3 separate regions of the Homo sapiens genome follow, and all the other regions are linked to region 3. A link means that fine-mapping ties the variant in region 3 to the expression of a gene that starts in the linked region. Tissue or cell type: atrial appendage. Region 3 holds a variant in brackets; each other region holds the start of a gene. All regions are shown on one strand. Distances are from middle to middle.

Evidence for each region. PIP is the estimated chance that this variant, and not a neighbour inherited with it, causes the effect.
Region 1: DIRAS3 starts here. The variant in region 3 is fine-mapped to the expression of DIRAS3 in atrial appendage (GTEx, PIP above 0.99).
Region 2: it holds the start of GNG12, and the variant in region 3 is fine-mapped to the expression of GNG12 in atrial appendage (GTEx, PIP above 0.99).

Annotation. Positions count from the first base shown.
Region 1 is chr1:68,049,602-68,052,283 of GRCh38, reverse strand. DIRAS3 (DIRAS family GTPase 3) reads left to right here and starts at 1,657. Exons shown (of 2, transcript NM_004675.5): 1 at 1,657-1,736. All of the region lies in intron 2 of GNG12-AS1 (GNG12, DIRAS3 and WLS antisense RNA 1), which reads right to left. It also overlaps the pseudogene ARL5AP3.
Region 2 is chr1:67,832,122-67,834,803 of GRCh38, reverse strand. GNG12 (G protein subunit gamma 12) reads left to right here and starts at 1,337. Exons shown (of 4, transcript NM_018841.6): 1 at 1,337-1,460. It overlaps GNG12-AS1 (GNG12, DIRAS3 and WLS antisense RNA 1), which reads right to left and starts at 2,516. Exons shown (of 10, transcript NR_040077.1): 1 at 2,368-2,516.
Region 3 is chr1:67,950,976-67,953,657 of GRCh38, reverse strand. The region is part of intron 1 of GNG12-AS1 (GNG12, DIRAS3 and WLS antisense RNA 1); the gene reads right to left. Among named protein-coding and RNA genes, the nearest start is that of DIRAS3, 98 kb to the left of the region's middle. The variant G/C (reference allele first, on the strand shown) is at 1,398.

The DNA of each region.
Region 1 (2,682 bases), 99 kb before region 3:
CAGAATCAGGTTGGAATTTGTTTTGAGACAGGTTCTCACTTTGTTGCTCAGATTGGAGTACAGTGGCTGTGATCACGGCTCACTGCAGCCTCGATCTCCTTGATGTGGGAGGCTCAAGTGATCCTCCCACATCAGCCTCCCAAATAGCTGGGACTACAGGCGGCCACCACCACACTGGGCTAAATTTTTTTAAAGTAGAGACAAGTTCTCCCCATGTTGCCCAGGCTGGTCTCTAACTCCTGGCCTCAACCTCCTTATTCTCTAGGATTACAGGCGCCAGGCTAGACCTCACAGGTCTTTAGACTTCTACGCACCAGGTACCTGGTAGGGGGAGGGATTATAGTGGCAGAAGAGCAGTACCAGTGGCCCACACCACACACCCTGGCCTCAGCTGGCTGGGGCACACAAAACCAGGTGCTACCGTCAACGACTAGGCCCATAGGGTACTGCTGTCAAAACCTGCTGCCAACAACTTCCACACACTCCCCAAAACGCTCGGTAGGCGGTGGTGCGCAGCTTTCAATGCATCCGCCGCCAGGCGCTCACAGGCAAGGGAGAAAGAAGCCAGACGGAGCTCGGAGATGTGGAGGGCAGACGCAGGCGCATTTGGAAAAGGGACTGGCGGTGGGAGGCGCAGAGGGAAAAAGGAACGACACAATCGGGCTTCCTAGCCGCTGGCGGACCCGATGGGGCGTCCTGCGAGGGTTCGGCGAGGGTTCTGCCAGGATAGTAGCATTGCGCCCAAGGAGTGAGAGGCACCCGGGGCTACTGGAGCCAGACCCTCAACCCGCCCTAGTGGGAGGCGAAGAACAACGAAAGCCTCGTATTCCCATTTCTCTAATGGCTAATGACATTAAAGGTTTTCATATGGTTATTTGCCATCTGCATATCTTCAGTGAAGTGTCTGTTTATGTCTTCTGACTATTTTCTAATTGGATTTTTAAAAATAATTGATTTTTGAGTTATTTACATATTCTAGATACTGGTTGTATGCCAGATATATGGCTTGTAAATATTTTCTCCTAGGTAAACCTTTTCAGTATCGTTACAGGGTCTTTCACAAAGCAAAAGTTTTAAATTTATGGAGTCTAATTCATCAACATTTCTTTTTACCGGTCTTGCCACTAATGTCAATTTAAGAACCTTTTGCCTAGCCTTAGACAATAGTTTGTTGTTTTTTAAAACCGTTTTGTAATTTTACTCGTCACAGTTATATCTAGCCACTTAATTTTTATGTAAGGGTTATTTTTGGCGGGGGGGAATCTATAGATGTCCTGTCTTTTCAGTATCATTTGTGGAAAAGATTATCTGTCCTGCATTAAACTGCTTTTGGACTTTCGTCTAAAATCAGTTGGACCGGTTTTTGTTGGCAAAGTTTTGCCTGAAGCTTATTCCAACAGGTGAGAAAAAGTCCACAGTTTAACAGTTCCTCCCCAACCTGTAACCCCGCCTTGAACTTCTGGACTAGCCCCTCGATTGTTGTAGATGCCAAGCGGACCTCGCGCCGCTCTGCGTTGGGCCAGCCCCTCACAGCTGGTTTCTTACCACGTATTGCGCAAGCGGAATCTATGCCTGTTACCCACACTCCCTGCGCCCCCGCACCCCGCTCCTGTGCGCAAGTCGGAATATAAAACCGCGGAGGAGTGAGCTCTTGGGGTGTCCAGTTGGTTGCCGCGGCAGTCTCTCCGAGCAGCGCATTTGTCTTCTAGGCTGCTTGGTTCGTGCCTCCGAGAAAGGTAAGTCTTTCTTTCGCTTTTTTAGGGGTACTTGAAAACAACAAGTGTCAGACAAAGCAGCAGATGCTGTTGCGCAGTAGAAGTTTATGGGCGAGTTGTCCCTGAAACTGGAACCAGGTCTTTCTTGGCGCGATTACGCAAGAACCACCCGCAGCCCTGCGGGCTCCTGGCAGGTCCTGCAACTGCACTTTGGATAGTCCCGTTGGGAAGCTAGCACTTTTTAATATAGAAGAACGAGGTTTGATAAGTGTGCGAGCTTAAAGGTTGACACAGTGTCCACTATTACAGCTGCGTAGGTAGCTAGTGTTCAGGAAGTAATAGTGGAGTCATGTAGTGTGAAAGTAAGATTGAAATGGGCGAGGAGGGTAGCAGCCGCCACAGCCACCAGAGAGAAACCTGACCTTGCAGGTGCGTGGTGATGTCCATGAGCCAGGCTGGTGCCGCAACAGCAGCGGCGGGACCTTGAGCTCCGCACGGCCGCTGGGTTTGGACGCCCTCTGGTTCCTGGAAACTTTCACCTCCCCCTCAGCCTGAGGCCAGGTGGCCTGGGAAGGTGGAAGGAGTGTGGAGGGGAGTGGGGGGGGGGGTCCACTGCCTGAGAATGAGAATTCTCTTCACATCTGGAAACTTCAGTTATCACGTGTGTCCTTTACCAATTTTTTTTCTTTTATTTTCTTTTTGATAGAGACGGCGGTCTCCCTATGTTACCCAGGCTAGTCTTGAACTCCTGTGCTTAAGCGATCCTCCCACCTTGACTTCCCAAAGTGCTGGAATTACAGGCATGAGCCAATGCGCCCGGCTGCTTTACCAATTTTCTATGAATGAATTTGTACATACATCCCCTAGAGCAGGAAGTAATGTAAAACAGAATAATTAGTAATGCACATTTCCTAATGTGGGATGTTGGTGGCCAAGAGATATTTGGTCTTTACTGGAACTCTTGATA
Region 2 (2,682 bases), 120 kb after region 3:
CCTGTGGTGTCAAGCTGTTCTGTTTCAGGTGTATCATTTGAACTGTTAGTACTTGTGAATCAGTCAAGCATTTCCTAATGCTGAACAGAACAGGAAATAAAGACCCCTCTGGCAGTCTGTGGCTTGCATCCCACAAACCACCGCCATCCGCAGCTTGCTAAGACCACACTCCTGGGGCAAGGCATGCATTCATACACCTACTCTACCTGTGACACCTCTTCTACATGTGCAAATGATTTCACTAAACCTGAAACTTGCTTAGGGGTCAGAAGGAAAGCAAGAGGGAATATAATGCCCTGACTGCAGTCCCTAGTTCCCAGATTCCCCAGGGCCCACTTGTCCTCAGTTGGTGAAACTCAATACACAGACATCCCTCACCAATGCTTTCAGACTCCATTTCAAGTGTGGACTCTGCCCACACTGGTTCTAAGTGACCTACTTTGGCCTCACCTCTTTTCTCTCCACCCTGTCAAACAAGAAAGCGGCTACCTAGGAATACTCTAGAAGTCCGCTGAGTGGTTTTCTGAACATCCAGCTTCTTTACTCTTTCTGGACTCCAAGAAGGCAAGCCCCTTGTCTGATTCATCTTTGTACCTCTCCCATCACCTTTAGCATCGCAGTTGGTACACAGCGGGTGCTTGGTAATGTCTGTCGAATGGCCAAAGGAATAGTACAAAATCTGTGGAAGCGGAAATGGCTCCTCCATTTACCCGACCTTGAACCCTTCCAGAAAAGACCAACCAAATCCCATTAATTCATTAGGCAGAACTCTGCCAGGTACTGGACATTCGGAAACAAATTTCAGGGGGTCGGGGCAGATGGACGGGAAGCTCATGGTGGGTGGATGTACTACAAATTCTATAATCCGCAGTTATACCTCCACTTTCTGGGAAACTTCTCTCCGTGGCCCCAGGGCCCTTTAAATGTTACTATGCGTGTTTTCCTCCATAGTTTCTGGAACAGAACCAAACTTTCGTGTAGGGGTTTGGCAGCGCTCATCCTCACAGCCCTGGGGACCGCTGGCACAGGGGCAAGCGAGGCGTTCGCACGCGAAGGAAACTTGCGAGGAGTCAGGGCGGCCCCGCGCGGGGGCGGGTCGTAGAGTGGGGGCCCTCAAGTCCTAGAACTTCAGGTCCTCCATGAGAATTAGAGGAAGGGGGATGGCCAAAGACGACCAGACGTCCACCGAGCTTCCACAGGCCAGGCCTCGCCCCTCCTCCTGCGGGGCCACAACGCGGGCTCCCCGGCCCGGGACAGCACAGCCAGGGCGTCCGGGCGGGAGGCAGGGCCCGGCGCGGAGGAAGGAGCCCGGGGCCGCCGCCGCCCCGCCCACCCCAGCGAGGCGGAGCCGGCGCCCGGAGGAGCAAGAGGAGGAGGAGGAGGAGAGGTCGGAGCCGTCTCCAGGAGCCCTTAGAGACCGAGTCCCGGCGGCGACGGCGGGGCAGCGCACCGGCAGGCGGGTGAGTACCAAGCGGCGGGCGCGGGTGGTGAGTCGGGTCCCCGCGGGGTCGGGGCGCGGCGCGGGGCGTCGGCCAGCGAGTTCGGGGGCCGCCTCCGAGTCCCGGGTGCTGGGAAGCGAGATGGAGGGAGGGAGCGGAGGAAGGAAGGAAGGAGGGAAGAGTGTCCTGCTGGAGGGCGGGGACTGGTCTGGGCGCTGGGCGCCGGAGACCGGGGGGAGGGGGAGGAAGGGGCCAAGGGACACCGAGACCCAGAGGCAGAAACGGCGCGCGCGCCCTCGACGGGCGGCCGCCCGAGGTTGCGGGAAGCCGCCCCCACGGCTGTGGCTGGGGCTAGGGCTGGGGGTGGAAGGAAAGGTCTCCCCTTGAGCTCGCTTGCCTCCTCGCCAGCCTGCGGCCGTGCGCCCCGCGCCGGGTTGGGAGGCCCCCAGTGTTCCCAGCCGTGGCTTGTGGTGGTGTCAGGCGTTGGAGGAGGGCTGGCATGTGGGGGCGACAGGGACGCCACGCCCCTCTGCCTACTTTCTACCTCCCGGGACCAGCCGGCGGGAGCGCAGCCTTGGAATCCGCTGGGCGCTGGGGGTCTAGCAGGGAAATAGCGGGTCGCAGAGGGGAGAGCCCATATGACGCACCCCGCGAGGGACCCCCGAGTGGGGACCCGAGGCTGCTTTTCTGCAGACTGTATTTGCAAGTGGTAAGGGGGAGGTTGAGGCTTAGTCTTGGGTGATTTTTTTTTTTTTAATTATTGCCCCGACAGTTATCCCGTGGGGCAGGGTGAATTCTGTTTTTCATTTTAATTAGGGCATATCAATTAAAGCTAACTTTAAAACGCTGTCACTTAGCACCTCCCGTCACTCACTCGTCCCTCGCTTTGTGTGTCCTGTAAACTTGGCTTAAATCATTCATAACTCACGATAAGGAAGCCGTGATTCTTGTTCACGTCGCCGCAGTGGAGTGAAACTTTGCCCAACTGGGACTGAGTGGAGGCATTGCTGCGGCCGGTCATCTGGTGGTCATCCTGCCGGGCGTGGTTGTATACAAACAAGTGGGTCGAGAAGGAAATCTCTGAACACCAGAGGTAGAAGGGAGGTTCCTGCGCCCACGTGTCAGGGCGCGTTTAATGGCTGCTCCCAGCGGAAACAAACGGGAATTTATTAGACCGTGTGGAGTTGGACAAACTTCACATGATTAGCTTCCTTCCCATCAGTTACTTCCTCTCCCCCCTGCT
Region 3 (2,682 bases):
AATAGTTATAAATAACATATTAGCAATATATTATTATAATCACAAAGAGAAGCAGAAAAGGTCAGAGTGATGCAATGTGAGATGAATTTGACCTGCTGGCATTGGCTTTGAAGATGGAGGAAGGAACCTTGAGTCAAGAAACACGAGCAATCTCTAGAAGCTGGAAAGGGCAAGGAGACAGATTGTTCCTGAGGGCCTTCAGAGAGGAATGCGGCCTTCTGGCCCCTTGACTTTAGCCCAGTAAGACCCATTTCAGACTTCTGAACTACATAACTGTAAGATAATACACTTGTGTAATTTTAAGCCACTAAGACTGTGATAATTTGTTGCAGCAGCAATAGAAAACAAAATACATAATCTCTTTCTAGCTGTGCAGTCTAAGAGTTAGTTAAGTTCTCTAAACAGAAGTTTCCTCATATATAATAATAACAATAATAATAATAATAATACTTAACCCTCGGCTGATTGTGAGAAATAAATGAAGAAATGGAAATAAAATGACCAGATTAGTTCTGGACTGAATTGTGTGTTGCCCAAAATTCATATGTTAGAGTCTTTAACCCCCTATACCTCAGAATTTGACTGTACTTGGAGTTAAGGTCTTTAAGGGAGTAATTAAGGTTAAATTAGATCACATGGGTGAGACCCCAATCCAGTATGACTGCTGTCCTTATCAGAAGGAGAACCACCAGAAATACTTGTGCACCAAGAAAAGATCATATGAAGACACAGTAGAAGATGGCCGTCTGCAAGCCAAAGAGAGAGGCCTCAAGAGAAACCAAGCTTGTCAACACCTTGATCTTGGACTTTGAACCTCCAAAACTGTGAGAAAATAAATTTCTGTTGTTAAGGCCCACTCAGTCAGTGGTATTTTGTAGGGAAGCCCTAAAAGACATACAGCTGGTCATACTAGAGAGTCAATAATACTAATTCTTATTATTACTTGTTCCTTCTTAATAAATATGGAAAATAGTACTACTTTGTGGGATTGCATTAAGGAAAACAGGTGATATAAGAAACCTGGGCTCTCCTTTTGGCTCTGAATCCCTGGCAGCAGCATCTTGCCAAGATACACACGTCACATGTGCTCTATGTCTTTTTTTTGTGTTGGTATTTTCTCTCTTTTGGTTAATGATGGTAGATTGAACACATGTGTCTTTCTTCTGATCCTTCAGTCCCATTAAAAATATTTTGAAAGGGATTTTCTTTTAAAGGTATAAACCTTTGAGAACATGAGAGGGAAAAAAAAGCAAAAAAAAAAAAATCTTTGAAGCTGGAAGACAAAAGGATAAAGGGCAACTGACTCAGCAACCTCAGAACATTGAATCCTCAGCCAGCAGTGAGGGAGGCCAAAAGCAAGCTGATAGGGACCTTAGAGATCCAGGACTCCATAATTG[G/C]CAGCATCAGGGATCTGTGAAAGTGTGAGGAGATGGGACAGAAGTGGGGGCTGAAAACCACAAGATCGGTTGGAAATCTATTTACAGTGCACTTAGACTCCTGGATAACCTCTATTGCTTCTCAAAGCTGACAAGTGCCCCTTTCCTTGAAACAGAATACAGAAACTGACTCTCTGGAGACAGTGAACCAAATGGACTCTGGATTGGTGGCCATCTAGCCCCCATTCTGGGTGTAGGGCAGGGATAATGTACTGGAAACAGTAAGGTTTGATGAAAATCTACATATTGAATTCTAAGGACTCCTTATTCCCTTCTCCACCAGGTCCTCAGAAGGCTGGCAGTCTCCAGGCTAGATATGGAGCTGGGGATGGGAGACTCAAAGAACAGCCTTCTTTGAGTAACCTAACCAGTCAAAGAGAAAAGACACAGAGATACTGATGTTGCTGATTGTGACCCTTCTGCCATGAAGCCCCCAGCCCCACTCATGCTCTTTCAAGTCTCTGGTTGGCTTTTTAATATCCTTCTCTTAAATACATGCTGACAGCCCAAGATTGGCAGATACTTGAAGAAAGACTCTACCTAAATGATGCAGACCAAAACTAATCAACAGTGAAACAGGGAATTTGTAGAAAACAGAAACCATATAGGAAAAAATAACTTAAAAGAGAAAAGTAACTATCATTAATCTTAGGAAGCTTTTAAAGCATGTTTTTCAGCAACAATGAAGTGGGCATCCTACCTCTTGGTGACCAACCCACCTCCATCTCTCTGATGATGAGCCCAAGTACTGGATGTGTTCAACTTCACTAGTTTAGACAGGGTCTGGAGTGAGATGGTTCTGGGAAGTGGAGGCAGAAAAGCCAATGGTCTTATTCACATGAACCTGGTCCACCAACTACAGCTGCTAAATCAGGGGATGAGATGAACAGAGGATGAGGGCCTGAGCAGCTCAGTTTCCAGACAGCATGGAGGGCTGGCAGTTCTGACTGCTTTATGCATATGCACTTAATTTGCTTCCCTGGTCCTTCTAAGTGGCAACTCATTAACACCTCCAGGCTGAGGGCTCACATTTTATACTCTAGTTGAATATGCAGTAGCATAATGGAATGTCTACTATGGCTGCCTCTCTGGAAAAGCTGCCCTATTTATTCAGCCACCCTGGAGAAAAGTGGCAGATTTTTTCTTGCAGTGGCAAGAAATACCCGTATGCTGCTTTTAAACACCTTGGAGGTTTAACTTTTTAAATGTTATTCATTTATGCTACTTTGTAACATTATATGTTATA